Regions from separate parts of the Homo sapiens genome. Here regions 2 and 3 are each linked to region 1. Evidence: fine-mapped expression QTL. A gene starts in region 1. Each other region holds a variant in brackets. All regions are shown on one strand. Distances are between the middles of the regions. Region 1 holds the start of KDM4C (lysine demethylase 4C). Region 2 overlaps KDM4C (lysine demethylase 4C). Region 3 overlaps KDM4C (lysine demethylase 4C).

What was found.
Region 2: its variant is fine-mapped to the expression of KDM4C in T cells (TOPMed, PIP 0.90).
Region 3: its variant is fine-mapped to the expression of KDM4C in whole blood (TOPMed, PIP above 0.99).

Annotation. Positions count from the first base shown.
Region 1 is chr9:6,751,198-6,762,058 of GRCh38, reverse strand. It overlaps KDM4C (lysine demethylase 4C), which reads right to left and starts at 4,086. Exons shown (of 22, transcript NM_015061.6): 1 at 3,856-4,086. RefSeq lists enhancers at 52-734, 2,773-2,992, 4,193-4,552, 5,284-5,995 and silencers at 3,653-3,822, 3,913-4,152.
Region 2 is chr9:7,169,119-7,179,979 of GRCh38, reverse strand. KDM4C (lysine demethylase 4C) reads right to left here. Exons shown (of 22, transcript NM_015061.6): 21 at 10,090-10,182; 22 at 4,332-5,427. The coding sequence ends at 5,251. Among named protein-coding and RNA genes, the nearest start is that of KDM4C, 420 kb to the right of the region's middle. The variant C/A (reference allele first, on the strand shown) is at 5,547.
Region 3 is chr9:6,975,731-6,986,591 of GRCh38, reverse strand. KDM4C (lysine demethylase 4C) reads right to left here. Exons shown (of 22, transcript NM_015061.6): 9 at 5,474-5,667; 10 at 2,188-2,426; 11 at 1-248. Among named protein-coding and RNA genes, the nearest start is that of KDM4C, 220 kb to the right of the region's middle. The variant T/G (reference allele first, on the strand shown) is at 4,766.

The DNA of each region.
Region 1 (10,861 bases):
TGGGAGGCCGAGGCAGGCGGATCACGAGGTCAGGAGATCGAGACCATCCTGGCCAACACGGTGAAACCCCGTCTCTACTAAAAATACGAAAAAAATTAGTTGGGCGTGCCTGTAATCCCAGCTACTCGGGAGGCTGAGGAGGAGAATCACTCCAGGGAGTCGGAGGTTGCAGTGAGCCGAGATCATGCCACTGCACTCCAGCCTGGGCGACAGAGGGAGACTCCATCTCAAAAAGAAAAAGAAAAAAGAGACAGAGGTTGGGAGAGAAGCATTAAATACTAATATTTAACAAAAGGGAACACACATTTTTCAGTAGATATTGAGCTTAATCAAAGTACAGAATGTACCTATCTTATCACTAAATATAGAGCAAATAAGTGAATATCAAGGGAATAACCATGAGCAGTATAAAGACTGTGCTAACAGGAAGGGATGATCAGGCCAGGTGCAGTGGCTCACGCCTGTCATCCTAGCACTTTGGGAGGCTGGGGCAAGCGGACTGCTTGAGCCCGGGAGTTTCAGACCAGCCGGGGTACCATGGCAAGACCACAAAAATCAGCCAGGCATGATGGCATGTACCTGTAGTCCCACCTACTTGAGAGGCTGGGGCTGGTGGACTGCCAGAGCACAGCAGACAGAGAGGTTACAGTGAGCTGAGACTGTCACTGCTGCACTCCAGCCTGGGCATCAGAGTTACACCCTGTCTCCAAAAAAAAAAAGAACAGGATGATCTTAATACTGACATCCAGAGGCCGGGCACAGTGGTTCACACCTGTAATCCCAGCACTTTGGGAGTCCAAGGTGGGCGGATCACCTGAGGTCAGGAGTTCGAGACCAGCCTGAACAACATGGTGAAACCCTGTCTCTACAAAAATACAAAAATTAGCCAAGCATGATGGTGGGTGCCTGTAATCCCAGCTACTGGGTTGGCTGAGGCAGGAGAATCGCCTGAACCTGGGAGATAGAGGTTGCAGTGAGCCGAGATCGCGCCATTGGCACAGAGTGAGACTCCATGGACAACAGAGCGAGATTCCGTCTCAAAAAAAAAAAAAAAAAGACATCCAGGAAAGGAAAACACAGCATTAACCATAGAATAAAGCCCCACTTTAGAGAACTGGAGAACTGAAGTTGGCAGTGGAATAGGGAAAGATCAACAGGCCCCTTCAAGGCTTGAAAGAGTATCACCAAGCCAGGCACGGTGGCTCACGCCTGTAATCCCAGCACTTTGGGAGGCTGAGGTGGGCAGATCACGAGGTCAGGAGATCGAGACCATCCTGGCTAACACAGTGAAACCCCATCTCTACTAAAAATAAAAAAAAAATTAGCCAGGCATGGTGGTGGGTGCCTGTAGTCCCAGCTATTCAGGAGGCTGAGGCAGGAGAATGGTGTGAACCCAGGAGGCGGAGCTTGCAGTGAGCAGAGATCGTGCCACTGCACTCCAGCCTGGGCAACAGAGTGAGACTTCGTCTCAAAAAATAAATAAATAAATAAATAAATAAATAAATAAATAAATAAAAAAGAGTATCACCCAAGACTAACTATCCCTCCTTACGCATGCAGTCATTCAACAGATGTTTAACCTAGCAATTACATTATATATATATATATATATACCCAAGAGTAGAGAAAACACGCGTCCACACAAAAACTAGTTCACAAATATTCATAGCATTACTCAGCCAAAAGCAGAGATAACACAAATGTCTACCAACTGATGAATAAACAAAATGTGATGTATCCATAATAGAATATTAGCCATTAAAAGGAATGAAGTACTGATACAGGCTGCAACATGGATGAACCTTAAAAAACATTATGCCAAGTGAAAGAAGTCACTCACAGAAGACCAGATAGTGTATTATTCCATGTATATAAAATGTCCAGAATAGCCAAATCTATTGAGACAGACAGCAGATTAGTGGTTGCCTAGGGACAGAAGGGGATAGAATTGGAGGGAACTAGGCAATGACAGCTAATAGGAACAGAGCTTCTTTTGGGGATTAAAAAAATTCAAAAATTCATTGTGGTGATGGTTGCACAAGACTATTCATTTACTAAAAGCTTTTATTTATTTATTTATTTATTTATTTATTTATATTTTTACTTTTTTTTTTTTTTGAGATGGAGTCTCAGTCTGTCACCCACGCTGGAGTGCAGTGGTGCCATCTCGGCTCACGGCAACCTCCACTTCCAGGATTCAAGTGATTCTCTTGCCTCAGCTGGGATTACAGGCGCCTGCCACCATGCCTGGCTAATTTTTGAATTTTTGGTACAGACGAGGTTTCGCCATTTTGGCCAGGCTGGTCTTGAACTCCTGACCTCAGGTGATACACCCGCCTCGGCCTCCCAAAGTGTTGGGATTACAGGCAGGAGCCACGGCGCCGGGTCTGATTTTCAACTTTAGAAAAGCAACTGACTAAAGTCTGTTAATAAAAAGAAATAAGTCTTCGGTTTAAATTGTACTGTATTACCAAGTTTGCGGGATACTGTAAAGCTTATGTGAAAACTTTTCATAACACTGAAATTGGGAGAAAAAGCACCTAAAAAACCCGAACAACCGTGTAATCCGTTCCAAAACAAACTATGGGCGGGTTGCGCGGAGGCCAGCAAGGTAAGAAAGCAAGCGATAATCGCAAAGCAGAGCCGACTGCTTCCTAATAAAAAATGGACCTTTAAAAATTAAAACCACTAGTTTTCAACCACAACACTTCGAAATGAGAATATTAGTCACCGTTGCCATAGAAACAGTAAAGCCAAGCTGCCCGGAATTTAGACATTTTTTTAAATACCGCAAACTGAAATGGGTGAAAATAGGGCAGAGTTTAGTGTGAACCTAAGTGGCCGGAACCTACTAGTAACTTTCACCAGGATAAAAGTGACTCTGCTTTTCTAACCTACATTTCCGAACAGTGCTTTATAAATCACCTCTCGGGGTTAGTTTATCAAGCGCAAAAAAAAGTTTACCTTGTCTCTTCCGGAAGAAGGAACCTGACAAAACCCCTCCCGGTAGTATTGCCCACAATCAGAGCCAGCCAGCGCAGGCTTGCACCGCGCAGCAAAGGGGGAGCCCAGCATCAAGTCCACGCGGAAAGCATCTGAATCCCGGCTGCTGGCTTTACTGGCGGAGCACAGAGGAAAACCCCAAGCTCCTGCCTACAGCCCCGGCCTGTCTGGCTCCCTCCTCCACGTCCCCACTCCACGCCACGTTCTGTGCCTGGCAGTCCACGCGCCCTAATCCAACTCGCATTTATTTAAGCACCCGCCGTCTACACCGCATCATGGTTCCTCCAGGCACTGCAGGAAGAAATGGCCCCATGCCGGGGGAAAGAAACACCAAAAGGACAGCCGCGAGGGCTGAAGACGACCCCGAATGACGGGATGACTGCCTGCAACGGGTGGTCAGGAGAGGAGCTCCCACCCTCACCCCGCGGGTCGTGACACTCCCAGGGAAGGGAGGGCCCCGAGGGGTGCACCAGGCCCGGCCTTCCTGGAGTCCGCCACAGCCGACTGGCGGCGTTAAGAGGTCCGCATCCCAGGACCGCCCGAGCGCTCCTCTGCCCCAAGGAGGCGACCCCGACTCCGGATCCCGGGAAAACGGCGAGCGCGGGTACCGAACCTCGGTAAGGGCCGGAGCGGGCTGTCACCGGCCCCCGCATCCCTCCCCTGCGGCCGCGGCCGGCCGCTCCCTCCCCAGCTTGACAGTCGCTGCAGTCACGGACGGAGCGTCTCTGCCCCAGCGTCGCCGCTCGCCCGGACGCCCGCACCCCCGTGCCCCACGCGGAGGGGGGCAGTGCCGGGAAGACCTCTCCGGACCCTCCCCCCGCCCTGGCCCCCAGACTCCGGAAAAGCGGTTACCTGGCGCGCGGGTTGGGGCGAGAGCACGACTCGGTGGAGGAGGAAGAGAAGACAGTGGCCTCCGGCCCAGGGAGATTTGGGAAATTTGGGAGACTTGTTCCGCACTAGGTGACAGCTGTTCGCTGCGCACGCGCACAGGACCCCGGCCGCCCGATCACTGCGCCGCGCCTCACCCTCCCGTCGAGGGGGTGGGTGGGAGGCAGCGGCGAAGGCGCGCGCACCGCCGGCTCTCCCTGCGCGAGGGCGCGCGCGCCGTCACGTGACCGCTGGGGCCCGCACTTGGTGAGTCACGTGGGCTTACAAACAGCTTAAAGGTGCCCGGCACGCTCTTGCTTTGGGCTCAACTTCCGCGCTGTGGTTAACTTAGGCTTGCTGGCGCGCATCTTCTTGTCCTTTGGACACAGGCATATCCCATTCTTTCCGGAGGGGAAAGATACTCGCGTAGAAGGAGAAAACAGGTGCACAGAACCTTGCCCGGAAGCGCTGGCTGGGGTCCCGCAGGGCTGGACCTGATGTAGTCCACGCGCCACACGTCCTCCTGGGCGCCGACGCGCACCTATGGCGGCCTCCGACGCGCGGACGTCAGCGTGGCGTTACCGGGGTGGAGCCTCGGAATGTACTGGAGAGCCTGGCGAGAAAGTCGGGGCTCGCAGCTCTCCGGCGATGACAGCGCTGTGTTCCCGTTCTCCCTTCACCCGGTGGCCGGGACCACTGAGCCTCCTTCCCACAATGGGAGATCCCGAATAGGCGAAGAGTATCTTCGTGTCCCAACCCTTTAACAACTACCGCGCAGGAGCGTGTCAGCCTCTGGAAGCAAAACTGTCCGGTGTTGAGTCACCTACACCCAGCACGTCCCGCCCCGACCCGCCCAAGTGTGCTCTTAAGATAGGGAGGCACAAAGGTGACCCCAATAGGAATCCTGGGCTGGCGGTCCCTCAGAAACTAGAGTTGATAACAGTTTGGCCAGAACTGAAGTGACTAGAAATGCAGGTGCCTCCAGCGTCTGAGACTAGATAAGTTAACTTCCTACAACTTGTTGCTTTTCCTCTGTAACTCCGCCTTCCGAGGTGTCAGAAGGAACCAACCAGACCTTAAGCCCCTGTACTGCCAAAGACAGATGGTTGAGCATCAGATGTTTTGCAAAGCTGAATGATTTTTTTTTTAAACTTCCTACAGAGCTCCCAGCTGGGTCCCTTGTGGCGTTTTCTCTAACGTCTTAGCTAAGAAAGATTGGGCATATCTTCACACCAGTGAGCAAAGTTGGGCTAATATGCTGAATTTTCTGTTACATTATACTGATAACAGAATTTTAAAAATATATCGACACCGCTTACCACGCGCTTGAACTCGTTTCTCACTGGGGTGAACATTGTGAGGACAGATGGAATGTGATTAATTGAGCTAAGGCTAACGGGATTATTGGGTCACCATATTTCTTTAGTTGTTAAAAACAAAGTTCCGCTACACACACAGACACACTCTTTTTTGAGACGGAGTCTTGCTGTGTCGCCCAGTTTGGAGTGCAATGGCGCTATCTCGGCTTACTGCAACCTCCGCCTCACGGGTTCGAGAGATTCTCCTGCCTCAGCCTCCCGAGTAGCTGGGATTACAGTCGCCCGCCACCACGCCCAGCTAATTTTTGTATTTTCAGTAGAGACAGGGTTTCGCCATGTTGGCCAGGCTGGTCACAAACTCCTGACCTCAGGTGATCCGCCCGCCTCGGCCTCCCAAAGTGCTGGGATTACAGGCGTGAGCCACTTCACCCGGCCACACACAATTCTGAACTTGGCTAACGTATACTCAACTGGGAATTTTCCAAATGTGTGCATGTAACGTCAGGATCCCAACCATCCTTACAAGTAAATTGGATATGCTAAAATAATAAATATGCAACCTAACACTTACTTAGAACAGTAATGTGAGCTACACACTGTCTTCAGAGCTTCACATGTATTAATAAATACTTATAATAATTCAATGAATAGGTACTATTAATACCTCATTGTTACAGATGTGGAAACTGAAGCATAGCGGTTAAGAAATATGTCCACAATCAAGCAGCTAGGGTCTTTTGGAAGCCATATGCTATATTAGAAATCTTGTGCACCAGAATAAAAAATCTGGAAACCTGAAATCCATTTTCTTCAGAATTTGCAGATGCACAAATAACATTTCTTTACCATTGTGAATTAGAGTATGACTTTTTTTTAACCTGAAGAACTGAAGTGGATATACGAACCTTGCTAACTTCACTGAGCACTTTTTAATTTTAAGGAAGATAATGTAAAATGTCAAAACACTTCAAAAGCTGTAAAGCACTATGTGAATCCATTAAGTGCTTCACAGTCTTGGAAAGTGAAGAGAGCCTACTAGAAAATCAACTGGACTCATGGCACTGAGGGCAGTCTTGTGTCCCTAATGTATCAAAATACCTCCATATTATGAATTATCGTGAAAACATTTTAGCCATATAGTAAATTTTTTATTTAGATTCAATTGTTTAAATCCCAATTGCAATATATTAATGGAAGGCTGTATGAACAATACATAGATTCCCCTTGAAGTTTATATGTAATGTGAACTAACGAACAGATCATCAGATCACCTCAGAGACAATACTTGTTTTTATTTTATTTTATTTATTTGTTTGTTTTTTGAGACAGAGTCTTACTCTGTTGCCCAGGCTGGAGTGCAGTGGCGCCATATCGGCTCACTGCAGCCTTGACCTCCCGGGTTCAAGCAATTCTCGTGCCTTGTGCCTCATTCTCCTGAGCAGCTGGCATTACAGGCATGTGCCATAATGCCCAGCTAATTTTTGCATTTTTTTATAATTGAGACAGAGTCTCACTCTGTTGCCCAGGCTGGAGTGCAGTGGCGCGATCTCAGCTCACTGCAACCTCCGCCTCCTGGGTTCACGGCATTCTGCTGCCTCAGCCTCCCAAGTAGCTGGGACTACAGGCGCGTGCTACCACACCTAGCTAATTTTTTGTATTTTAAGTGGAGACGGGGTTTCACCGTGTTAGCCAGGATAGTCTTGATCTCCTGACCTTGTGATCCACTCACCTTGGCCTCCCAAAGTGCTGGGATTACAAGCGTGAGCCACCATGCCCGGCCTAATTTTTGTATTTTTTGTAGACAGGGTTTCGCCACATTGGCCAGGCGGGTCTCAAACTCCTGAGCTCAAGTGATCTGCTGGCCTCCGCCTCCAAAAGTGCTGAGATTACAGACGTGAGCCACCATGCCTGGCCAATACTTGTAAGTTTCTTAAAATATATATAATGCAGCAAATTTATATGCTGCTTTTTTTTTTTTTTTTTTTTTTTACTTTGAGACAGGATCTTCACACTGTTGCCCAGACTGGAGTGCAGTGGCACTATCACGGCTCAATACAGCCTCCACTTCTAGGATCATGCAGTCCTCCCACCTCAGCCTCCCATGTAGCTGGGACTACAAGCGCACACCACCACACCTGGCTAATTTGTTTATTTCTTTGTAGAGTCAGGGTCTCACTATGTTGCCCAGGCTAGTGTCAAACTCCTGGGCTCAAATGATCCTCCCGCCTCAGCCTCCCAAAGTGGTGAGAATACAGGAGTGAGCCACTGCCCTGGCTGCAAATTGATATACTTCTAAATAATAGTCTAATTTTGAATCTGTTGAAGTACACTACACTTTTTACAAATATAAATAATTGAGCTGGGCACAGTGGCTCATGCCTCTAATCTCAGCACATTGGGAGGCCAAGGCGGGCATATCACCTAAGGTCAGGAGTTCAAGACCAGCCTAGATAACATGGTTAAACCCTGTCTCTACTAAAAATACAAAAATTAGCTGGGCATGGTGGCAGGTGCCTGTAATCCCAGCTACTCGGGAGGCTGAGGCATGAGAATCACTTGAATCCAGGAGGCAGAGGTTGCAGTGAGCTAAGATAGCACCACTGCACTCTAGCCTCGATGACAAGAGCAAAACTCCATCTCAGAAAAAAAAAAGAAAAAGAAAAGAAAACAAAACAAATATACAGAATTGAATGAGGCTGGGCTCGGTAGCTCACGCCTATAATCCCAACACTTTGGGAGGCCGAGGCGGGCGGATCACCTGAGGTCAGGAGATCGAGACCATCCTGGCTAGCACGGTGAAACCCTGTCTCTACTAAAAATACAAAAAATTAGCCAGGCACAGTGGCAGGTGCCTGTAGTCCCAGCTAGTCCAGAGGCTGAGGCAGGAGAATGGCATGAACCCGGGAGGCGGAGCTTGCAGTGAGTCGAGGTCGTGCCACTGCACTCCAGCCTGGGTGACAGAGCAAGACTCCATCTCAAAAAAAAAAAAAAAAAAAAAAAAGAATTCAATGATAGTAATACTTAGTGTTTTTATTTACCTTTACCTTTATCAAATATGTATGTTACTTATACAGGAATAATGAGAGATGATTAGTCCATGAGGGCTCTGCCCTTATTAATGAATTAATGCCGTAACTGCAGGAATGGGTTCATCCTCTTCTCTCTTGTTCTTTGTCCTTCTGCCATGGGATAATGCAGCACAAAGTCCCTCACCTAATACAGCCCCTCAGTCCTGGACTTTCTAGCTTCTAGAACTGCGAGCCGATAAACTTCTGTTCATTATAAATTACCCAGTCTGCCAGGTGAGATGACTCATGCCTGTAATCCCAGCACTCTGGGAGGCTGAGGCAGGAGGATCACTTGAACCCAGGAGTTCAACACCAGCCTAGGCAACATAGCGAGACCCCATCTCAATTAAAAATAATAATAAAAATAAATTACCCAGTCTGTGGTATCCTATTATAGCACCACAAAATAGACCAAGACATGATAGATAAAAGATAGAAGTCAGTGTTTATAGATTTAATAATCATGGAACAAGTCCATTATTTCAGGTAAATGCCTGGTGTGCTTACTCTTAGGCCTGAGTTGGAAGACTTTCAGAAATAAGGGTGGAAGAAAAGTTTTAGATCCATGAAATCCTTATCATTGGAAAGACAGTCCAAACTGACTAAGAAGAGGTAGAAGTTCTGCTCTAGGTGAGCTTATCATGGCCATTCCTGATAAGGATTAGGATTTGTGCCAGAGTCAACCAAACCATCCATTGGGGTAGAAGGAGAGGAACTTCTTGAGATACTGATTAGTATTGTAGTTACATCAGAGCTTAGATCAAAAGCAGCTGCTATTTCTGACTCCTCAGTGGTCCCCTGGAACTAGGGTGAGGCATGGGTTTCAGTCCAAGCACACTTCTTCCATTAATGATCATAGAGTGCCTGGAATATCACAGGACATCTTTCATCACTGAGGGATAAAATGCTCCTCCACCTCAGGCATGAACTTAAAAGATATCTTCATTGAGGAACACAGATATTTTATTGCTATTTTTATAAAGTCTCTGATTATAATAGGAAATAGAGCACTTGGCATATATAAATAAAATTCATATATTAGTTGGAAAGAGACCACAATATAACTTTTTGGAAGTTGCTTTAACAATCCCTGGTTTTAGGCTGAGCGCGGTGGCTTACGTCTGTAATTCCAGGGAAGGCGAGGTGGACGGATCTCCTGAGGTCAGGAGTTTGAGATCAGCCTAACCAACATGGTGAAACTCCGTCTCTACTAAAAATACAAAATTAGCCAGGCATGGTGGTGCATGCCTGTAAACCCAGCTACTCAGGAGGCTGAGGCAGGAGAATCGCTTGAACCCAGGAGGCGGAGATTGCAGTAAGCCGAGATCATGCCATTGCATTCCAGCTTGGGCAACAAGAGCGAAACTCCACCGGAAAAAAAAAAAAAATCCCTGGTTTTGAGAACGTTACCAATTTTTTGTTTTACCTGTTCCTCCTTAATTTTTTTTTTTTTTTTTTTTTTTTTTTTTGAGACGGAGTTTCGCTCTGTCGCCCAGGCTGGAGTGCAGTGGCGCGATCTCGACTCACTGCAAGCTCCGCCTCCCGGGTTCACGCCATTCTCCTGCCTCAGCCTCCCGTGTAGCTGGGACTACAGGCGCGCGCCACCATGCCCGGCTAATTTTTTGTATTTTTAGTAGAGACGGGGTTTCACCGTGTTAGCCAGGATGGTCTCGATCTCCTGACCTCGTGATCCGCCCGTCTCGGCCTCCCAAAGTGCTGGGATTACAGGCGTGAGCCACCGCGCCCGGCCATCCTCCTTAATTTTTAACTCAGGAATGTGACTTGCTTAATCTCTCCAGCAGTAGCTCCTTTGGTATCACAAACAAGAACCTAATTGTCATGGGCTTTCTTCTGCAGAACAAAATGTTGCCTTGTAAGATATTTTCACATTCTGTAGTTTACCTCAAATTTATCAAATTCACTGATTTTAATATTTCCCTTTCTCCCTACCTAATTGCTCTGATTTTTCTTTTCTACTCAAATTCTTCCAGAAGGTATTCTGTCTGATCAATGAGCTCAATTTTCAGCCTGCAGCTTTATAATACATTTTCTAGGGGCCTTGAGCTGACTATTGTGAACAACTATCCTGTTCCATCTTCCTTAAGTGTTCTGATTATGCATAATTGAGATCTCATCATTCAGCTAAAGTTGTAAGTGGCTTCTCTCTTCTTGAACTAATGTTAATATAGTTTGGGTCCTTGTCATATCCATTCCCTGTTGTGATAAATTGTAAAATGTAGCCACAAGATCTTCCCATGATCCTTTGCAATGTGACTTTGCCCTTCCTTCCATCAAGAGATCAGCTATATCCCCACCTGCTGAATCTAGGCTGATTATTATTATTATTATTAATTTTAAGACAGGATCTGGGTGTGTTACCCAGGCTGGAGCGCAGTGGTGCAATCTTGGCTCACTGCAACCTCCACCTCCCAGGCTCAAGCCATCCTCCCACCTCAGCCTCCCTAGTAGATGGTACTACAGGTGTGCACCACCATGCCTGGCTAATTTTTGTATTTTTTGTAGAGACGGGGTTTTGCCATGTTGCACAAGGTGGTCTCTAACTCATGAGCTCAAGCAATCCGCCAGCCTCAGCCTCCCAAAGTG
Region 2 (10,861 bases), 420 kb before region 1:
TGAAAGAAACTGTTCTCTTTCCAGCATCTTCAATTCTCTCACACTCTTTTCTTTACATCAAACCCACCTGGATACCCCCTTCTGGAACAATTCTATAATCTGCCTTCTCTGTTCTTATAATCAGGAAATTGGTCTTCTCGGATAAAATCTCCCCTTTCCTGTGTAAAACCTGCAACTCCATCTCTGCTCCTAATCCCTTTCCCTCCCTTTGGGATTTCTCCAGAAATTATTGTTTAGATTCTCCATCTCTGCCCTTCAACTAGATCCTTTCCCTCAGAAATAAATATTTTCTCCTATCAAAAAGAAAAAGTGGCCGGGTGCAGTGGCTCAATCCTGTAATACCAGCACTTTGGGAGGCTGAGGTGGGCGGATCAGTTGAGGTCAGGGGTTCGAGACCAGCCTGGCCAACATGGTGAAACCCTGTCTCTACTAAAATACAAAAATTAGTCAAGCATGGTGGTGCATGCCTGTAGTCCCAGCTACTCGAGAGGCTGAGACAGGAGAATCGCTTGAACCCAGGAGGCAGAGGTTGCAGTGAGCTGATCACACCACTGCACTCCAGCCTGGGCGATAGACCCAGACTCCATCTCAAAACAACAACAACAAAGAAAACAAAAAAAGAAAAAATGAGGACTTCTTGTTCTGGGCTTGTTTCTCCCTGGCTAAGTATAATTTAAAATCCTAGACATAGTACAACAAATAAACTTAAGAGAACTACAAAGTGTTGAAGGAGGAAAGCAGACTAACAAGGACTTCAGGATTTAAGGAATCTGTGTGAACAGGGTTCAGTTCTCTGCGTTTTCCTTTTATCTCCCATATTTCCTGGACTTGGAACCGGAAAATCCTGTAAATGGCAACTACCAACAAGCAAACACAACTTAAAAAGAAAAAAAGCCCTAGGAAAAGTCTATTCTGTCTAGTCAAAGAACAGGGAAAGGCGCAATCTCGCAAAACAAAAACGTTGACAATACTCCTCCTACCCCTATCAAACGCAAGGCATGGCCCCTGCTTCCACAGTGTCAGTAAAGACCAAACAGGAAGTCTGGGATTCCCCTCCACACTTGGTGGCAGCAAGTGACCCAGGACGAGGCTTCCCTCCCCACCTCCCAGCATTGTGTTGCTGGACTGCGTGTGGGGTTCTGCACTCCTTTCTCCCAATTACATAATCTTCCTTGGAGTTGGTAACGTTTTCTTTTTGCTTTGACCACTGCTTCTTCTTGAAACATGCTCTTCCCTTGCTGTCCAGGAAACCATAGCATCCTGGGTTTCCCACCTCACTGAGTTTCTCAGCCCTCACGCACAGGATCCTCTTTTCCTACCCAACTATGTTTTGCCGTTCTCCAGGATTCTGATCTCTGCTCATTTCTTTTTTCATGTGATATGTTTTCTAAGTAGCCTGCCCTCCATTCCCCTAGATTTTTACTTACTTAAAAAAGTCGAAAAAAGAAGAATAAGCCTGGAAAATGGGGAAAAAAAAAAAGTCATGTTCATTGAAGTGTAATTTACATACAGTTCACTCATTTGAGTGTTTTCTATGAATTTTGACAAATATATACAGTCTTGTTACCACCATCATAATCAAGATAAAGAACATCTCCATCACCCCCAAAATGTTCCCTTACATTCTTTGTTGTCATCCCTTCCCCTATCTCGTCCTTGGCAACCACTTGATCTGTTTTCTGTGCCTATAGTTTTGCCTTTGCCAGGAGATAATTTTCCTGTACACTTTTACATCCACCAATAAAGATAATGCCTTCACATTCATATCTCTCATATCTCTAACGTTAACCTTTCTTTTGAGCTTCAGACTCACCTCTCCAATGTCTCTTGTTTGGGTCGGATTTTTTCTTCATGCGTTGAGAAGGTTGAGTGATTCAAAAGTTACTCAACCTCTGTGAGTTTTAGTTTTATTCCATAAAAGAGGGTAATGGTACTTATTTTGCTGATTTACTGGGAAGGTTAAATAAGATGAATGTCACCAAGGAGACTAGAAGACTGGATGTACACAATAGATGCTCAATATATCATTAATATTGGCTGCTTTTGATGAAGTTTCATTTCCTCAAAGGGACCTCAAAGTTGCCCGGGGTTTCTCAGTCATAGGCCCACTTGCTGGAGAGTTCCGGCCTCATCAGAGACTAGAAATCATTCGCCCCACTGGCCAATGCTATGTGTTCCTACAACATGTCGGGTGAGAGGATGTGTAACTCTTCAGATAACTGCTCATCTGAATTCTCAGGAAGACTTTGCAGTACAATTGAGTCTTGCAACCAACCAATTACTTCATGTAATGAGAATGCCTCAGGATCTCTGGTTAGCTTCAAGTTTATGGGGCTGATTTATATCTGAAATGAAGATTGTTTCATTTCAGATTCCTTTTACTTAAAGGCAAAAATAAAGCACAATGTTATCTTGCAGCAGATACTGCTCCAATGATTATTCATAAGGCCTCCAGGGCATTTACAGTAACGTGTGCATGAACGCCCTTGTTTCACAGTGGATAGGTACAAGGAGAGGTGGCAGACTCATTCACTTCTACACAGTTCTGTATTCTCGGTCTCCATGTTTTCACATACTGTGACCCAATAACAATGTGTAATAAATTCTAAGAAGCCATGTGATACTTCAGTGGATGCTTCTTCTCAATTTCTCTCTAGTTGAACTAAAAAAAAAAAAAAAAGTCCTTTAATAAAAGTTAACTGACAAGAATCACATTGTTCTCATTTCAAACACACAAAAAGGAATTAAAATGTTATGAAATATGCCAGGCCGTGTTTACTAATCCCTTAACCTCCAGAGAAAGGGCTTGCAATTAGTGTTACATTAGAATTGTCACAGCTAAGCAATTTTTTTTTAATACTAGAAGGACTTCAGCTGATTTTATGCTACACGTATACACTAAACATGCAGCTAGTGTAACGCAAAAAAATTAAAATCACAATTGAGGTGCCACACAGTAAGTGAAAATGGTTTAACGGTCTGTCTGGTCATAGAGCTAATAACCACTTTATGCAGAATGCAGTGAAACAAAGGTGCCTTTCTCAATAGCCAGAGTGCATTTGTGGCCAGCACTATTTTACTAAGGCCATATACAGCTGTACTTGGTTATAGGCACATATGTTAAGTGAGACTATAAAAAACAGCTGTATTTGAGATCGCATAGACCTCTGCACATTTTCTCCCTGTGGCAGCCAATCAGAAATCTTGCTGACAGGCAAACTTGTACAGAACAAATGATCCTATTTAGATTAATTCCTCTTAATGCCTTAACCAGGCCTACTTTCCTGGCATATTATAGAGAGAGCAGGTCAGTTCCATTCAAAACCTAGAGATAGAAAATTCAAGCTTGATTAGTTGATAAAATATATGACTACACTGGTAGAGAATGTGGAGTGCTTAGTCTCTGTAAAAAGAAGGCTGCTGGGCTCTACCCCAGCTCAGAGTTCAGCCACAAGGTACTCTGGAATATGAGCACCTAGCCAGGGAGCAGTCTAGGGAACTGGGTTTTAGCTGTGGCTCTTTCCTTACTGTTTTGGTCTTCACTCTCTATTCAGGACCAGGATACACCCATACCCTTTGCCATAAAAGTCTGAAATGCCATCCCAGTCCCTGGCTCTGGGCTTTTGCCCATAGGATGTTAACCAGTGCCCCATAGAGGACTGAAATGTGCTTACTTGGCTGGGCTTCCTTGCTCTCCTGCCTCTGCCATTGACATGAGAAGAACATATCCGGGCTGCCCACTGGGTCCACTAGAATGATGGGAGACCCACGGAGCAGGTGTGTGAGCTAGTCCAAGCCAAGGTCAGCACGGCTGTCCAGCCAAGCCCTGCCTAGATGAGAGAAATAAATGCTTTTTGCTGCAGGCCACTAAGATTTTGCAATTTTGCAATTGTTTGCAATGCGGCAAAATGGTGGCCCCAGTTAACTGAAGCAGTCACCAAAACTGCCTGCCCTTGGGCATCCCTTTTCCTGTCTATCCTCCGGGTCTCATTTATACAATGAAGGAGGGACTGGAGGACCTCTAATTCCTACTAATGACAGCTGCGGACCAGGAATCCTGGAACGAAAAGTGATCCAGACTCAAGGGTCTGAGATGTATTCAGGGCCTAGAAGAAGTTGAAGAAAACACTTCCATTGGTACTGAAGTAGGCAGGCAGGGGACTTTGTCTCCAAAAATATCGCCATGCATGTGCCACAACCATGGAAAAAGTCAGCGACAGAAGGAGGGTCTGAAAAACCTGGGCCGCAGTATGTCCTGATAGCCAGCTCTCCAATAAACTTGTTTTTCTACTGGTTTAAACCCAGACAAATAAGCAAGTCAGAGACAGGACTGGAGAAAATGGAAATCTTTATTTTTAAACACTAGTACATTTTCAGGCTGTTTTAAAAAAGAAAAATCATGTTACATTAGTTCAAAACTATGCATCAAAGCATATTTATTTAAACTCTAATTTTACAAACACATAATGAAAGAAACATATATTTTATAAATATCTACTCGGAATATGTATTATGAAAAAAAGTGTTTAAAAATAACAGCCCCAGATCTCCCTCTTTAAATATATAAAATTCGCATAACAATTCATAAGAATTCTTTCTCAAGAGCCAAAAATTTCATTTCACAAAGGCCAACAACTCAGTTCCCATCAGACACAATCAAAAGTAATAGGAATATTCAAAAATGTAAAAGTTCTGTACAAGGGAAATACAGATAGCACACGGGTAAATCTCATTAGCATACATGCCATTTGTGTTTTAAAAATGTTTTATAAAAACTGCAATTTGAAACAAATAAGTGAGAGTCCTTCCCTGACTGTGGAAAATATATAAATTATCGCCCTACCCGCTGGGTACCGAGGTGCCACCTGCTGGAGCTAGAGAGAGAGGTCCCCGTGTGTTTCCTGACAGGGCCCTAAGCCGCACAAGGGGACCCGCCTCCTCTGTGGCAGTGGCTTTTCCTTGTGGGTGATTCACTAGTATTTCCTTTCACTTAGAAAACTTCTTTGGGATCATAGAAGACAACTGCTCACAAGTGAAAGCAAGACTAGAGATGATTTCAGATTGCTGCGTCCAATTCATTGGGTGTATTTTGTATTTTTGGTGACCAAACTCTGGAAACCCGATTTACCACTGTCAGAGACACACCCTGTCACCTATGCCAGCAAAACTCACGGCACAGCCCCAAGGATGTCCCTTCATCTTCTCTCTTCCAACCCAAGCTGCTCTGTGGCCTGCAGCGATGTATGCAGACTACTGTCTCTTCTGGCACTTCTTCTGGAAAGAGCTCTTCAAAAAAGTGCGGTATACAGGGTCGGCCACATATTCATTCTTAAACCTGGAGCTCAGCACTCTTTGTCTCTTTCTCTCCCCTTGGATAATGTCTGCTCCATAAAACGTGTCTTCAAATCGCATGTCAGAGGCTGTGGACTAAAAGCAGCTGGTGTTATATTGCAAAAGGGCACGGCATTTGATCTTCAGAACACTGGACAAAGATCTGACTCGGTCAGCTGGGGTTAGGGTGCAGATGCCCAGGTCACCAGCTCAGG[C/A]TAAAAGGGCCCCAGGCATGGCTTTGGGCTTTCCCTCGCCTCTCCCACCCAAAGTGGGGGGCTCCATTTAGCCCTACTTTCTCCAGGATCTCCCCACCCTCCAACCCCAGGGACCTTCCCCAAACAAAAGCAAGATTAAAGTCTTCTCGTTTTAAACTTCCCTCATTTTTCATCTCCCCTCTGTTTTTGACAAATGTCAACAGTCATCTCTAAGTTACCTTTACTCCTACTTAGCTTTGGGCCTCTGCCCCACCCCTTCCCTGAAACTGTTCTTGCTGAATGAAGTCCTAGTTGCTAATTCCTGTGACACCTTCCTATCCCTAAACTGACTTGACTAGTCTGCCAACTAATTACTGCTTAAAGCTCTCTTCTCTGTCATTTTGTAAACCCACTCTCCTGCTTCTCCTTCTCTGGCTGCTCACTTTTGATGTCTCAGGGGTTCCCTTTCTTAACTATCTGCTCAACTACGATGCCCTAAGGTTTGGCACTGGGCCTTCTCCTCTCCACTCCTGTTCCCTGGGCCTTTGTGCCCACACCCCTGGCTTCAGTGTCTGCAGGAGATGCTCACATCTGCTCCAGCTCAGGCCTGTAAGTGCATTTCCCCAGCAGGCATCACAAAGTCCCTGTCTCAGAGGCCCTTCAAATCAACCTGTCCTAAATTGAACTGAAAGCCTTCCTTCTTCATTGCTGTCCTTCCTACATTCCATAAAAGGCACCACCATGCCCATGCACCCAGTTACATTGGCCAGAAACCTAAAGGCACTGTAGACATTTCCCCACCGTGTCCAGGATTCCTCCTGCATGTACCTTGAAGCCCTTCAGCCTTTCTTCTTGATCCTTACCCTATGGGGCAGGCCCTCACCTCTGCAAAGCACTGCAATAAATGCTGTACCTCCAACCTATTTCCCACAGTACCACTGGAAGAAAGCTCTCTAAAAGCCCTCTTATTATAAGACTCTACATGATCATATGCCCTTGCTTGTAATTTTCCAGCAACCTACTGCCTTCAAGATGACATCCCCACTCCCCAGGCTAGACCTACATAACCTGGCCAGAAGCCTGCCCCGTGCTCTGCTCAGACGGCATCAGTTGCAGGGCCTGGTCATACTTGCCTGGCTCAGGGCCCCATGCTTCTCTGTCTTTGGACACACTGTTTCATTTCTGTGAAAGTTATTCTATTCTACTGTCTCTGCCCTCGGCAAGCTTAAGGGTCCTTCTTTGGGACTCCTGTGGCCCTGACACATCCACTCAGTAAGAGGAGGGCAGTGGTAGAGGTAAGGGGCAAGTAAGTTTCTCCCCATCAGGGGAACCCCATAAAGGTGAGGATATTAGGGACTGTGTACCCAATTTTACATGTGTTCCCCACAGCAAACAATGTGGCTAGTATTTGGCTGCTGTTCAGTAAGTGTTTGCTGAGTGAGGGCATGTGGCTTTTTCTGTGATAATCAGATAAAGCCTAAAGTCTATGGTAGGCACTATTTTTGCTTCCCAATTCCCTACTATCTTGCCTCCTAAAATGCACTGGCAGCTGTTTTCACTGAGGTGGATGACTTCTGATGACATCAACACACAGCACATTTCACTGTGCTGAGACTGCTTCCCCTGGCTGCTGGCAGAGGCAGAGGTGAAAGACACTTTAGGACTTGAAAACACACGGTCCATAGTAAAGAAGAGAAAAACAAGAAAACAGCCACAAGGAAGCCTGAAAACAAAAAATGTACCGAAGCGTAAAGCTGTTCATGTTTCCAGCCAGTTCATGGGACAGTTACTCAGGGTAACAGGCCACCTCCACGGCTTCCCCCACATACCACCTAGTTTCACTAGAGAAGAAAACTAAATCATTATGGGCTGGTTGGGTTCCCTCTGCCATTAGGAGAAAACACTTTTGTTTCATTCATTCTTGGCAAAATACTTCCTCTGAGTAATCTTTCACTTGTGTAAGTGCTAAAGTTATCAAAGAAGAAAATAAAACATCTATGAAAGTGTTGCCACTGTGCAGAAACAGCAAAAGTCGGCCTCTCAAATACAATAATAAAACCGATTTACCAGGAGCTCTAGCTAATTATGCACCGTTGCTATGGTTATTCTGTGAGACAATAAAAGGTAACGGGGCTGCTTCTGAAGTGAGTGGAAAAGAACCCCACACAATCACTGAGGTGGACTGCTGGCTCTTTTGAACAGTTTCTCCCCCAGTCAGCGTGTGTCTGGGTGAGCCGAAGTCATTAAAATACAAGGCCTCCTGACAAGGGCGGCTAACCTCCATCCTTAAAAAACAAAAAAGACTTTTCTAACCATAAAACATCTTCCATCAATGAGTTTTCCAATTAGATTTGTTTTGCCAACTGGAAAAAAAATAGTAATAATCATGGACAGACTAACCAAGGGTCTGAGGGCTATGTACCAACCCAGGGGAGAAACAGGCTGGCTACGACAAGACTGTGTATGTCTTTGATTCAATAAAGGTGGCCAACAGGACTTAGTGACCGTGAGCCTTTGTTCCCTAAGATATTTTCTACTTGGCTTAGCCGCTCAGAATAGCAGGCTGCATTCAGAGTGTATGGATGTGATTTACATATTTTCACTTTTTTTTTAATTAAAAATTTTTTCAGAGAATAAAAAAAAAATTGAATGTTGGTGAGCTTGTTCAGTGAAATAGACCTTAGAAAATCCAGGACCTGTGTTCCGAGACAGCCACAGGGGAAGGCATCCTGGTATCTGAGCGAAATCTACTGTGAAACAAAGAGATTGTGATCAGAGTATGAAAGCAATGAGCTTTCTTCTCATGTGATTAAGAAACAGTATTTGAAATCTACAAGACTCAGCTGGTAGGATGCTTAGTCATACATCGATTAGAAAATGAAAGACCCAAGAGACTTTGAGAGGCTACCTACTCCACTCCCCATCCTCTAAATCTCTAGGTGCTGAAAAAGGAAAAGAAAGGAGCGGGAGGAGCTGGGAATAAGGCAGGGAAGAGGGGAGTCCAAGGAAGACAGGAATACAGAACGAGACGAAGCTATCTCTAACATCTCGAAAAGGAAAGTTTTTCTCAAGAAATTTCAGGTCTCAGAACAGCGACAAGTCATCTAAGGTTTTTCGGTCTTGGTAAGATTTGGCTGGTATCTTTACAACAGGAATATTTAATTTTTTCTTTGCTTGCTGTCATTATCTAGTAGTTACTCTATTTACAGGTGTGTGGGTCCCCTCTGAGCCACATTTCCCATCGAGTGGGCAGCAATACCACCACTCCTCTTGACGATTTCACTTTGAAGGACCTTCCTCTGAAGGATGCAGCTGAGAGGAAAGTCAGTTCCCACCTGATGCAGTTACTCTGCTGTCAGGATCCCATCTGACTGGAAAAAAGCTGCATACACAACTGAACGTTTAAGGCAAGCGTGTCCAACCCATGGCCCGCCGGCTGCATGCTACCCAGGATGGCTTTAACGCGGCCAAACACAAATCTGTAAACTTGCTTAAAACATTATGAGTTTTTTTTTGCTTTTTTTTTTTTTTTTTTTAGTAGCTCATCAGCTATTGTTAGTGTAGTTTATGTGAGGCCAAAGACAATTCTTCTTCTTCAAGTATGGCCCAGGGATGCAAAAAGATTGGACATCCCTGATTTAAGAAAACCCTTGGTTTTTCCAAAATAACCAAATAATCTATAGTGACTCTATCACTGCAGACAAGTATATCATAAGCACTCACTAAACTGAATTATTCAGAAAAAAAATTTCATTTTAGTCAGAAAAACCCCATCCATTCAAATTTCTCTATTTAGGATTTATCATTTCACAGACACAATAGATATAATTCTAAATGAATAAAACTGACTTCATTTCAGGGTCCACTGAATATTTTATGATACAATAATATGAAGTCTAAATTATTGTGAATTATATTTTTCAATGACTGCAGTTTTGAATATTTGTCCATGTTTGTTCATCTTTTAATGGTATGTGAGGGCATGAAACTACTATTTCCTTTTTAAAAAACTGCTTTAGTATTCCCACAACTAGCATTTAGGCTTTGTTTATCCCTTTTATTATGAAAGTCAGAGTTTAGCTTAATGATGAACTGACACAAACATCAGTAACTTTCTGAGACAGAAGGTAGTCAATCCATGAAAAACCTATAAAAGAATAGACAGACATTCAATTATGCCGAGTCCCCTTTGATCTACTCCTGAATACTTTTAATGTTGCTTCTACTAACAAGATTGCAAATGCCTTGATGGTATCTTTGTTTGCTCCTGGTGTTTTACACAGAGCACACATTCAGTAAGTATTTTTGTGCACCAATAAATGTCAACACAAAGAAGCATCATGTGACTTCATTAGAAGAAAAGTAAAGCACATGCATTAATTTCCCCGATTTTGGTTGAATTTGAAGTTTGCATTCAATAGGTTCCACTAAGGAAAATGTTGCATTGGCTTTTTTTAGAATTAATCCAAAAGCCCAAGTATGTTTCCTGCTGGGCTTGGGAAACATGAGGTGAGGACAAGGAATTCACTTGGCAGGTCCCCAAGTGGCATCTGCCAGCACTTACAAATCGAGCTTTCACTCTCTTGGGTAACTCTTCATCTAAAGTGTAGATGTCCTCTCTCTTCATTGCTATCTGGGATCCATCTTCAAACTCAACCTAATGAAAGATAATATAACATGATACATATTAAAAAAACAGCACTGACCATTTTTAAAGGCTCCAATTAACTACATGAAAAGATGAAAAGGACTCAAACAGAACAAACAAGGGAACCAGCCAACAACCAAGGAAGTAAGAAGAGTTATTTCCCTTATTAAGTAGAGGCCGGGCATGGTGGCTCACGCCTGTAATCCCAGCACTTTGGGAGGCTGAGGCAGGCAGATCCCAAGGTCAGGAGATCGAGACCATCCTGGCCAACATGGTGAAACCCTGTCTAACAAAAATACAAAAATTAGCCAGGCATGGTGGCGCATGCCTGTAGTCCCAGCTACTCAGGAGGCTGAGGCAGGAGACCCGCTTGAAGCTGGGAGGCAGAGGTTGTAGTGAGCTGAGATCGCACCACTGCACTCCAGCCTGGTGACAGAGTAAGACTCCGTCTCAAAACAAAAAAATAAATAAATAAACTAAATACAAAATACATTTCAAAACAGGCCAAAATTCTTGGAAATGAGTGTCTTGGAATACAGGATATGAAAACTTTATCTGGCGAAGCAACAACAAAGAAAAGTAGCTGCTGATCAAATGGAAATCACAAAACATGAGACTGTGGGAAATTCAGCATTAAAATGGGTTGGGTCTGTCAGCACGGTTCATTTCTTTAAGAGGCTCTGACAAC
Region 3 (10,861 bases), 220 kb before region 1:
GCTCTCCACATCACTCTCTTCTCCCTCTGTTAACACACCATTACTCTCTGCCACTGATGAGCATGACTCAGGTGACTTTGGCCATGAAAGCTCGGATGGGTCTGATTTCTCGGGCTTCTCATAGCCACTAGACAATGGAATGGAATCATCAGCCTCACTGGATATAGAAGGTACACTTCTATATGCATAAGCTTTGTCATCCTCAGTTTTTATGTCTTCTGTTACAGATGTACTTAAGCAGCTGTTTCCTGAGGATAAAACAGAAGACTGTTAATAAATCATGCACTGTATTACTACTAAGTAGAATTGGTAAACTATTCCCAAATGATTCTGTATCTTACACACACATACACACGCATGCGCATGCACATACATGCACACACACAAAACAAACCTCATTTGTACCCATCACATACTAGCTCTGATACTGAACAACCCAGTTCTTCTACTCAAGTATTATGCCAGGGCTCAAAATCTGGAGATCAATGTGCAAAGAACCATGTAGTGACAGAACTAATGAAATTCAGGGCCCTTAGGCAAAACCATCCAGCAATTCATAAACTGGCTAATTAAACACAGTGTAAGAGAAAGCATGATGAGGAGCCGGGCACGGTGGCTCACGTGTGTAATCCCAGCACTTTGGGAGGCCAAGGCAGGTGGATCACTTGAGGCCAGAAGTTCAAGATCAGCCTGGCCAACACGGCGAAACCCCAGCTCTACTAAAAATATAAAAATTAGTTAGGCATAGTGGTGCACACCTTTAGTCCCAGATACTCAGGAGGCTGAGGCAAAAAAATCGCTTGAACCTGAGAGGCAGAGGTTGCAGGGAGCTATGATTGTGCCACGGCACTCCAGCCTGGGCGACAGAGAGAGACTCTGTCTCAAAAAAAATTTAAAAATTTTAAAAAAAGGGACTATAGTGAAATATCCATATGTATTGCCTAACTCTCTATTCTGCATTTGTTGTAATTCCCTTCCCTACCTTCTCTGCCTTGCTATCTTATATCCATTCATCAAAACTCAATTCAGATATCACCTTTGCCAAGAAACCTTGGCTATCCAGCTCTTGTGTGTTTGAAGTCCTTCCTTGGTAAACCAGCAACATCCTATGCAATCTCTATAATGCTACTTACCACATTGGATTGTAATTATGTGGTTATTTGCCTAGCTCTCCACTAAAACATGAACTCATTTTTTAAAAGTTCTGTGGTTTAAACTCTATCCACACAGCTATTTCAAGAGCAAAGGCAATGAGGCTGGAGTAGCAGCTGAGGACCAGTTTAGGACTATGTGAAGACTTTTTCTTTTATTATAGGTGGAATAATACTAAGAAGAAGGTAGTCACAAGACCTAAGCTTTTTTTCTTTTAAAGGATCACTCTAATGGCCACCTGGAGAACTGACTAGCGGGGGTGACTACAGCTGACATTCCTGAATAAGAAGGAAGCAATTGCTGCAGTCATCCAGGCAACAGCTATGGTGCCATGAGTGAGGAGGAAGCAGCAGAGGGAGTCGGATTCTGGCGGAGGGGGGAATCCCATGAGGAAGGATTTACAGGATGAGAAGTATGAGAGGAACACAGGAATTAGCTTATTACAATACAAAAACTCCAACAAATATGAAAGAGGCAAATCACTAAAGCAGTTTCAGAAAAATATGCTACCAAAGGGAGAAAAGGCAAAGTAGCTGAGATTTTCAGACAATGGCTTTAGTACAAAAGAGAAGCAAGGGGACTATACATGTCATTTCACTAGGTTGACTTTTCATTATTGTTGTTCTTAAAACCTTGATCTTTATTTTCTTCTTAAGTCGAAAGCTAAGAATCTACAAAGAATTATCTATAATTGGTTTTCTCTACTCATGTGAATTCAAAAGAAGCCTTCCAAAAACGTATATTGTAAATTGAGTTGCACGAAAAAAAAAAAACTCATTTTAGAATCTTCTTTTTTATTAAACCAAATAGGCACTGCTGACTGCTTGTCTCACAATTCTGCTACACATAGCAGTGAGGCTCCTGACTTTTACAATATTCCCTGGGACTATTGGTTGAGTTACCCATGACTTTGGTAGATTACTGATTAAGCTATGTGGACTAGTCAGATACTTGTCATAGTGAACATCCATTTAAGACATCTGATCATCAACCACCTACTACTTATATGTGAAACCTAATCAACCATCTTCTCACCTGAGAGTTTGATATGATCTGATAAATTCTGCTCCACCTGCATCCTGCTAGCAGATGACTCTTCTTCTGAAGATGCTTCTGTGTTCCTCAGCTTCACTGCTGCTTCTGACTTTTCACTGACCTTGAGGTCATCTGTGACTGAGTCGGGGTTAGGGACCTCTGCCCCATCGACTTCATCTGACACTTCCTCTTCCTCATCAGCCTTAGGCCTTTTAGAGGTAGACCTAGCACACTGGAAGCTGTCAACAAGAGAAGCAGTGGTCAGAGCGGGATGTCTGCAATGGATATGAAAAACACATCCCAATATAAATGTCATTTTCACTTGCTTAAAGAAGGAAACAACTGACATTGTTAATCACTATGCCAAGTCAATGTTCACAACTGAATGATTAAATTTGAAATCAAAATCTTAAACACAATTTTCTTATCAATCAATAAAACTTTAAAATTCACACAACTGTAAATAATTATTAAACATTATTTTGAAAAAGGGCCATTCCTAAAATTTTGTGACAACATTTTAAAAGTCTGAAAATAAAAATAAAGTAAAAAATGTTGAAATGAGACAGAAATAAAATCAATAAATAAAATATTTAGAAAATGAAGAAAATAAATAAAAATCAGAATATCCTGTTAGGCTAGTGCTAAAAGTAAATTTTTTATATTTCAAGGTAAACTACTGACTACTTTTCATTGAGTTTTGTATAATTGTCAGGTATGTATGAAAATAGTTCAAATTAAATGCCAATTCATCAATAGCGAAAGGATTTAAAACAGACACAGGCTAACTGGTGTGTGTGTGTGTGTGTGTGTGTGTGTGTGTGTGTGTGTCATAAAGACACTGTCTCACTATATTGTCCCGGGTGGTCTAGAACTCCTGGCCTCAAGTGATCCTCCCCCACTGCCTCCCAAAGTGCTGGGATAACAGGCATGAGCCACCACATTCAGCCTAATTTTATGTATTTAACATCGTACATCAACATACTATTTTCAGAGTGAACACAATTTTTATCTTCTTCCTGAGTATTTTCCAGCAGGTCACTTGATAGCTTTGGCATATATGCTTTTTACATATGAAACAAACATTCCTAACAATTAGGAACAATTACAAATCAACTCAAAGCAACAGTGTCCAAAACACACCCATATGTATTATACACACACAAGAAACCACCACAGGACTAAGCACTGTAGGAAGTCAGGGAGGGCAGAGAATAGGGTGGCCTGCGATAACCTATATAAATTAGCTTTCACTGCTACTGATGGCAGTAACTGCAGTAGTATGATCATCACCATCATTGCTTTTGTTGCAAATCCATGCATTGGCTGATGTGGGAAAATCTCAACATTATAAACAGTGTAGTATATGTGAAAAAAAGAAGGCTGACATGTGCTTGAGACATCAATGAATCATTCCCTTCATCAGACTTCCCTAAATGGGCTATTTCCAAAGGGAGATCAATAATCTCTAAATATCAAGCCACAAGGCTGAGCATATTAAACAAGCCCATAGTCAGGCTTTCTAAGTAGGTGAGCAAGTTCCATTGATTATTTGAACCTACTGACAAGCATTTTGATCTGTTCAAGTGTCATAAATCCATGTTCTCTATCAACCCAAAAGGCCCACTGTGGTTAATACCTGGAAACCAAGTCATACACCTAATGAAAATATTGTGTTTTCCATCCATGACAGAACAATGCTCAAGATGTTCTCCTGGTGTGTATTCTGAACTCAGGATTGGATACTGCCTCCTTCCAGCGCTGGCTTCTTTAGTGCTGTGAATTAACACAGTTATCAAAGACACTGACTGTCCAAATTAGTATTTCTCAAACTTTTCTTGAATGTAACCCACAGTGAGTTATATATTTCAGATAGTGACACTATATACACACATACACACATACTCACACATGTCATGAGTGAATATTTGCCCTTACCACAGAGGAAGCACTATAATACTTTTTATTCTATTTTACCACCTCATTTTAAAATGTTGGTCCTGACCTACTAACAAACACTTTGACGATCATTGCGGTAAACTACAGGGGGAAATATCAACACCTGAGTTAGTTCTGCACCTCAGGTCTACCTCTTATAAGATGCCGAAGTTTGACTCCATGTTCCTAAGGTTCTTCCACTCACTACCACTCTAAATAAGCAGAAAATAAATATCAGGGAAAAAAAAAAGACAGAAAATAAGCATCATAAGTCTGGGCAAAGATGTAAAATTATGGTGTTACTTAGTTAATATCAAAAAAGTGGACACAAGCTACAGGGGATTAAATACATGCAGGCATTAAAAATCATGTTGCAGCAAATCAATCAGTTACATGAAAAAAACACTCAAAACTGATTGTCAGATTATTAACAGAGCATGGCCCCAATTTTGGAAAGATATATAATATTATAAAATATATAATAAATATATAGGTAAAGGATATATACAAAATGTTAATACTGGTTATCTCTGGATAGTGAGGTTATGAGTGATATGGGATTCCTTCATTATTCTTTTCCTTATTTTACAAATTTCCTCCAATGCACAAATATTACTTTTATAATCTGAAAGAAAAACAA[T/G]GAGTAATATTGAAGAGGAAAATTTAACATAAAATTGGAAAACATAAGACCCTTAAAAGGTAGCCTAAGGACCTGAGCAACACCACACACACCCTATTCAATAGGTTTTAAAACAACAAGATGCCCACAGCACATCTAAAAGCTTTTGAAATGATCCTGGCCACAAAGATGGAATGGAGAATAAAGTTCACAAGGATAAGCATGTTACAGAAATGCTATATGCTGTGTTTTACATCTTACAAAAGAATAAAACCATGTGCATAAAATGTAGTAAAATATAAGCATCCAGAAGAGAGCAGTAGCTCAGATGTTGGACAAATGAAGAAGATAACCACTAAAGCCAAAAAGCAAAATGGTGGCAAAATGAAAAAGTGGAAAATCAAGTTATTGATTAAAATATGGAAATGCACAGAAAGGAATAATACAACCATAAAACACATTCATGTAAGTGGTCTAACAAGTTCTATATTGTTCTATTTGCCATGTCGAGCAACTTCAGGAATATTCTCAAACAAAATAAATATACATCTCTTCCTATATTGTATTTATTACACACCTAAGAATTAAAAATAATGTCTCACATTTTCAGAAAGGTATTAAGTTATGATGAATAAATAGAAAAAGCAAGTAAATTGCCACATCCAATGACCCATTTTAACTGAGAAAACACGACAGGCAAGGCAGGTCAGTGGGGTGAGGGGTCATTACCTTCGGGATGCTTTTCTTACTTTCCTCCTCCTCTGCAGCCATGCTTTTACTTCAGGGGTGGATGCTGGAGTAGGCTTCGTGTGATCAATGGTGTATATATCCTTTCCTTGTTTCCAAAGCTGATATCTGTCTGGCTGAAATTTCCTCACAAAGATATCCATTGAAATCTTCACCATGTCTTTCCTGCAAGTGCACTGAAACACAACCGGGTTGGAGAGTGTTAAACGTTTCGCTAACTATACAGTAACACAGAGTTGGTCCTTGAACACATCATCCATGAATACTTAGTCACTACATAATGGAGGATAATGCATTACATTATCAAACATTCAATGGGTGATAAACCCAATTTCTTCTGAATAGAGATGAGAATCTATATATTCACATTTATAATGTGGTTATAATGGTTTGTGGACCTCACAGGGAACTATGTACTAAGAAAAACTAAAAGGAAAGAGTGCTCATTTGGAAGCACGCCTGCAATGGAAAGATTATTTGCCCATCACAATGATGTGTCAATGAACTGAGCGCTAAAAGGTCTGTAAAGCTGAAAACCTGGGTTGTCAACAAATAAAATAACCCAATGAATGTGTGATTAGAATACTTTAACCAGTGAGTTGAGATAAATTTACTCTAAGATATATTTTATTATATTTATGGTTATTAACGAACTCTCATAAGGTAACCCAAAATTAGGAGCAAATGAACAGCCTTTTCTACATCACATCACATACAACATCCAATACCATCAACAACAACAACAAACATATCCACTAAAATGAAGACATGGGGTAAAGGTGAGAAGTTCAAAGAAAAAATTATTTTGAATCTACTATGCCTTTAATTCTCATGAATACATAGTTATCAGTCACATCTTATTAAGCAAGTTTTCTATAAAGACTTCACACAAAGTTTTATCAGGTCTAGGCCAGCACTACGCAACAGGGAAGTTATCATTCAAATGGTGGTGCATAAATAATCTCCAAGATTTAACTGATAGACCTTGACAATCCCTAACATACCCGGTAACAGACTGACTGAACAGTTTTGACACAATAAGACTTTAGATATCTTGGTGATACAATTATCACCTCCATGCAAATTAACTCCAAAGTCTTAATATATCCAAACCCAAACTCCCACCACAGAGTTCTCATCCTAATGGCCATTACATTCAAAATACCTAAAATTAATGTCTTCAACTTCAAACCACACTCTGTCGCTACCAAATGATACCACAGTTCTTCTATTCTCCTACATACATAGTCCACATTCCTAGACACTCCCTATGTCTTCACCCCTAAAAATTCAGCCTTGTCTCCATTTACGGCATCTCCTGTCTCAATTCCTTCTGCCAGCATCCTTGCAGCTGCACTGCCAGGCCTTGAATCCTAGCATAACAAGGCTAATTTCCCTGCCTGTAGTCTCTCCTAACAATAATCCATCGTTATAGCTGTTACTTTCGTCTCCCCCAAATCTCTTACAATCTTTCATTCCTGAGTTCAATAAGGTGTAATCACCCTGCTTTTCTTAGACCTAGAATAAGGTCTAAATTTATGAGCCTGGCATTAAGGGCTCCAAGACTTTACTCCACCAATGAGATTTTCAGGTTTCTCTCCCACAGCAAGTCAACATGTATATTCCTCTTCAACCCAAGTCATGGGAGCCCAAATGCCCCTTATGCTTCATTTACTTCAGTATTTTCCTCCTACCACACCACCTTCCTGCATACTAGCCGGCTATCCAGCAAAACTTCATCCTCGGCTCTGAATATAAATTGTCCCAACTGTTCCTCTGAACCTAATACTATTTATCTGCACCACTGCTTTCTATTATTGGTTACATATAATGAGGTTTCTAAGTTACCTTGCATAATTATCTTGCCATTGGAATAAAGAAAATGAAGATCCTGAGAAATTGAAAGATATTTTGGATTAAGATGTAATCTTTTGACAAAAGGGGGAAAAAAGCTTGGACTTACAACCAGAAACTTTCTTAAAGTGTTACTAATATTGCTTCACAAAGAAAAATAAACAGTGAACAAAAGTGATGCTCCCCACTTTAATGAGCTGATTTAGGCCTGATCATGATTACAATTGCAACATCCCTAGGGCAGATAAGCTGGTGAGGTACAGAACACTATTTCTGAGGAAAGTGTCTCAGAAAAAAAAACCTTTGACCTTATTAATATTCATCTTGTTTGCTCAGATGATGCTATGAAGCCTAAACAGAAACAGCAGATAAGCCATGGTCAAAGAGGAGTGTGCTCCGAGACTGGAGGATGGTACTGCTGGACAAACTTGCTAAACAGATGAAGTATGTGACTCGTGGATCCAATCAACCATGTCAGCAGAAGCCAGGAAGAGAGAATGTGGTTATCCAGGAGAGAGCTGTGCAGGACTGTCTTGCTTGATGCTTGGATGTCCATGAACTACACAGAAGACTGACAAGGATTTTGAGACTTTTATACCAGCAGAAATGCTGCCAGCCTGAACTGAAAGGAACAGAGACAGAAAAAAAGAAAGGAATGACTCCAAGGACAAGCCACAGATGCAGAACGACTGAGTGGACAGAACCTCACTGGGCTATTACAACAGCCCTAACAAACTACCCTTCAGGAGGTACAGAAACATGCCACCATGTGTCGTAAGATTTGTTACTTGAGGATTAAATCAACCAGAAAACCCACCTATACTAAATTTTTCTAAATAACCTAAACCCACCAACAATTACAATCTCAGTAATGGTATAAAAGATAATATAAAAAGATTACACCTTTAAAGTTTATTTGGAATTATTATGCAATGGAAGATGTGAAAAAGATTACATCATATCAATTTGCTGAGAAACTGTAAGACCCACAATGCAAATAGTGTTTAAAAGACTAAATTCAAACCCCAGCTTCAACACTGACAAGCTATGAAATCTTGAACAGCTTGTTTAACCTCTCTGTGCCTCAGTTTCTCCATCTGAAAAACTGAGAGTAACAGTGGTAACTATCCTCATGGGGCTGACAATAGAATTAAACTTTTTGTTCTTGTAGAATGTTGCTGAAAATGCTAGATAAGTGCCTATTTTTAAAAGGCCGAATATGGCTTATACAAATTGCTTTTTGGTAACCTGACCACAAGAACATTGAGGTTTCTAGTGTTATCTTATTTTGCCTTACTGAAAAAGTGGAAGCAACAAAAGAAATAAGAATCAGAATACTGCATCTAACAAATGGTCTTAAGGGTCAAGGGGAAGTAAGTGCATAGTGGTTCTGAAGAATCAAACAGGAGGAGCAATCCCAGACTTGTGGGGGATTGAAAAAACCCTAGAGGACTGGGCCATTGTCACAGGAGAGGTGACAGCAGTGTACATCAAGCTCCTGTTTGGATCATATGTTGCAACCAGACTCAACTCCATGGCTTCACATCTAGAGCAAACAACTGAAACTGGAGGCCCAGCAGATGACAGGCATTAATGAAAGGAAATGTCCATAACATGAATTAATACTGCCCAGGTGTCCAAGGTAGGATGCTGTAAAGTAAAATAAGATGGAGGCAGGGGTTCGACTTATGTGACTTCTTCATTCTCCACTGTATTTAAAAAACAAAATAGGCCTCCTTTTAACATAAGAGCTTGGTATTACATGGCAACATGTATGTGGTTTTGGGAGACATGAAATAATATCCACTTGAATCTCAGGATTGAAGAATAACTTTCAGAACATACTGGGAAAAAGTTGATTTCTTGCTTACATAAAATAAAACTCTAGTGAATTTCGAACATATCATATTATAACCTAAAGAGGATAATATTTAAAATTTAAAAAGAATTACTGTCTTTCATAGAAAATTACTAATTTTCCAACAATTATGAAAAGAACCCAATGTAGAAGATCAATTAGATTTTTGAACAGGACAATCATAAAGAAGGGAGGAGCCGATGGCAAACTCTTATTTTGAAGATTTAAATATGTCCAAATGACACGAGGCACATGGCTATAACCTGTAGTCCCAGAACTTTGGGAGGCCGAGGCAGGTGGATGGCTTGATCCCAGGAGTTCTAGACCAGCCTGGGAAACATGTCAAAACCCCGTTTCTACCAAAAATACAAAAATTAATCTCATAATCCAGTCTCAAAACAAATAAGCCCAAATGAAACACAAATTGTTGTCTTCTGGTGATGCCTGAGTAGATATCATATCTCTAGACCTATGCTGTCCTATCTTATCCTTTAGATCTAAAATACTGCCCTTTACAGTAGCCACCAAAAATGTATTTACCGATAAAAATGACTTATGCCAAAAAAAAAATCAAACAACATATTTATTGCTATTTCCTTAAGAAATGGGAATGGATAATTTAAAAAGCAAAAGTTAGTTTTAAACACCCTAAATTTTTAAATCAAACTCTAGCCTCTCCTTTCCCAAAAATGTTATTGCTCTTGAAGGCTATCAGCTAATTATCTTTGAGGCACAATCAAATCACATTAGATCAGAACTACAGCATGAAAAAGGCATCTGTTCTATATTCTATCCAACACAAAGCGAAAGTGCCTAACATCCCCCAATATATAAGGTATAAAAACATGGGACTGTGTATAAAACTTTAAAATGCAAAATGTTCAATGGCTTTAAGAACCCAACAGTTTATATGTTATTAATACAAATTGCCCTCTGAATAGTACTATATATATAATATTATGGACAAATGGAAGACATTCTATATCTCATTGTTTTCTAATAACCCTAATGTTAGTGAAGACAGTAAGAATTAAGAATCTATTATTAACAGTTATTTCTAACTTGTATTATGACTTCATAATTCATAATTGCTCATTATTTCTATAGTAAGAAGTAACAAAGCACTGCTAAGTGTTAGCATCAAAGTAACCTCTTATTTAACCAAGAATATGTCTGGTGGTGGTAACTAACAGGGCCAAAATCATTAATTAGGCCTGACACATAATTTTATTCTAACTCCTCAGACTACACTCTCATAATCACATAGATCTGTGCAAGTTCAGATACGTTAGTCTCAAAAACAAAAAACAAAAAAGGTATAATCCCCTAACTGATTTTTTATTTTATTTTTGAGACAAGGTCTCACTTTGTCACCCAGGCTGGAGTACAGTGGCGCAATCTCGGCTCACTGCAACCTCTCCCTCCCTGGTTGAAGCGATTCTCCTGCCTCAGCCTCCCGAGTAGCTGGGATCACAGGCATGTGCCACCACGCTCGGCTAATTTTTGTATTTTTAGTAGAGACGGGGTTTTGCTATGTTAGCCAAGCTGGTCTCAAACTCCTGACCTCGGGTGATCCACCCACCTCGCCCAAAGCGGTGGGATTACAGGTGTGAGCCACCACACAGGCCCTGAATTTCTTATTCTAATTTTAATGAACC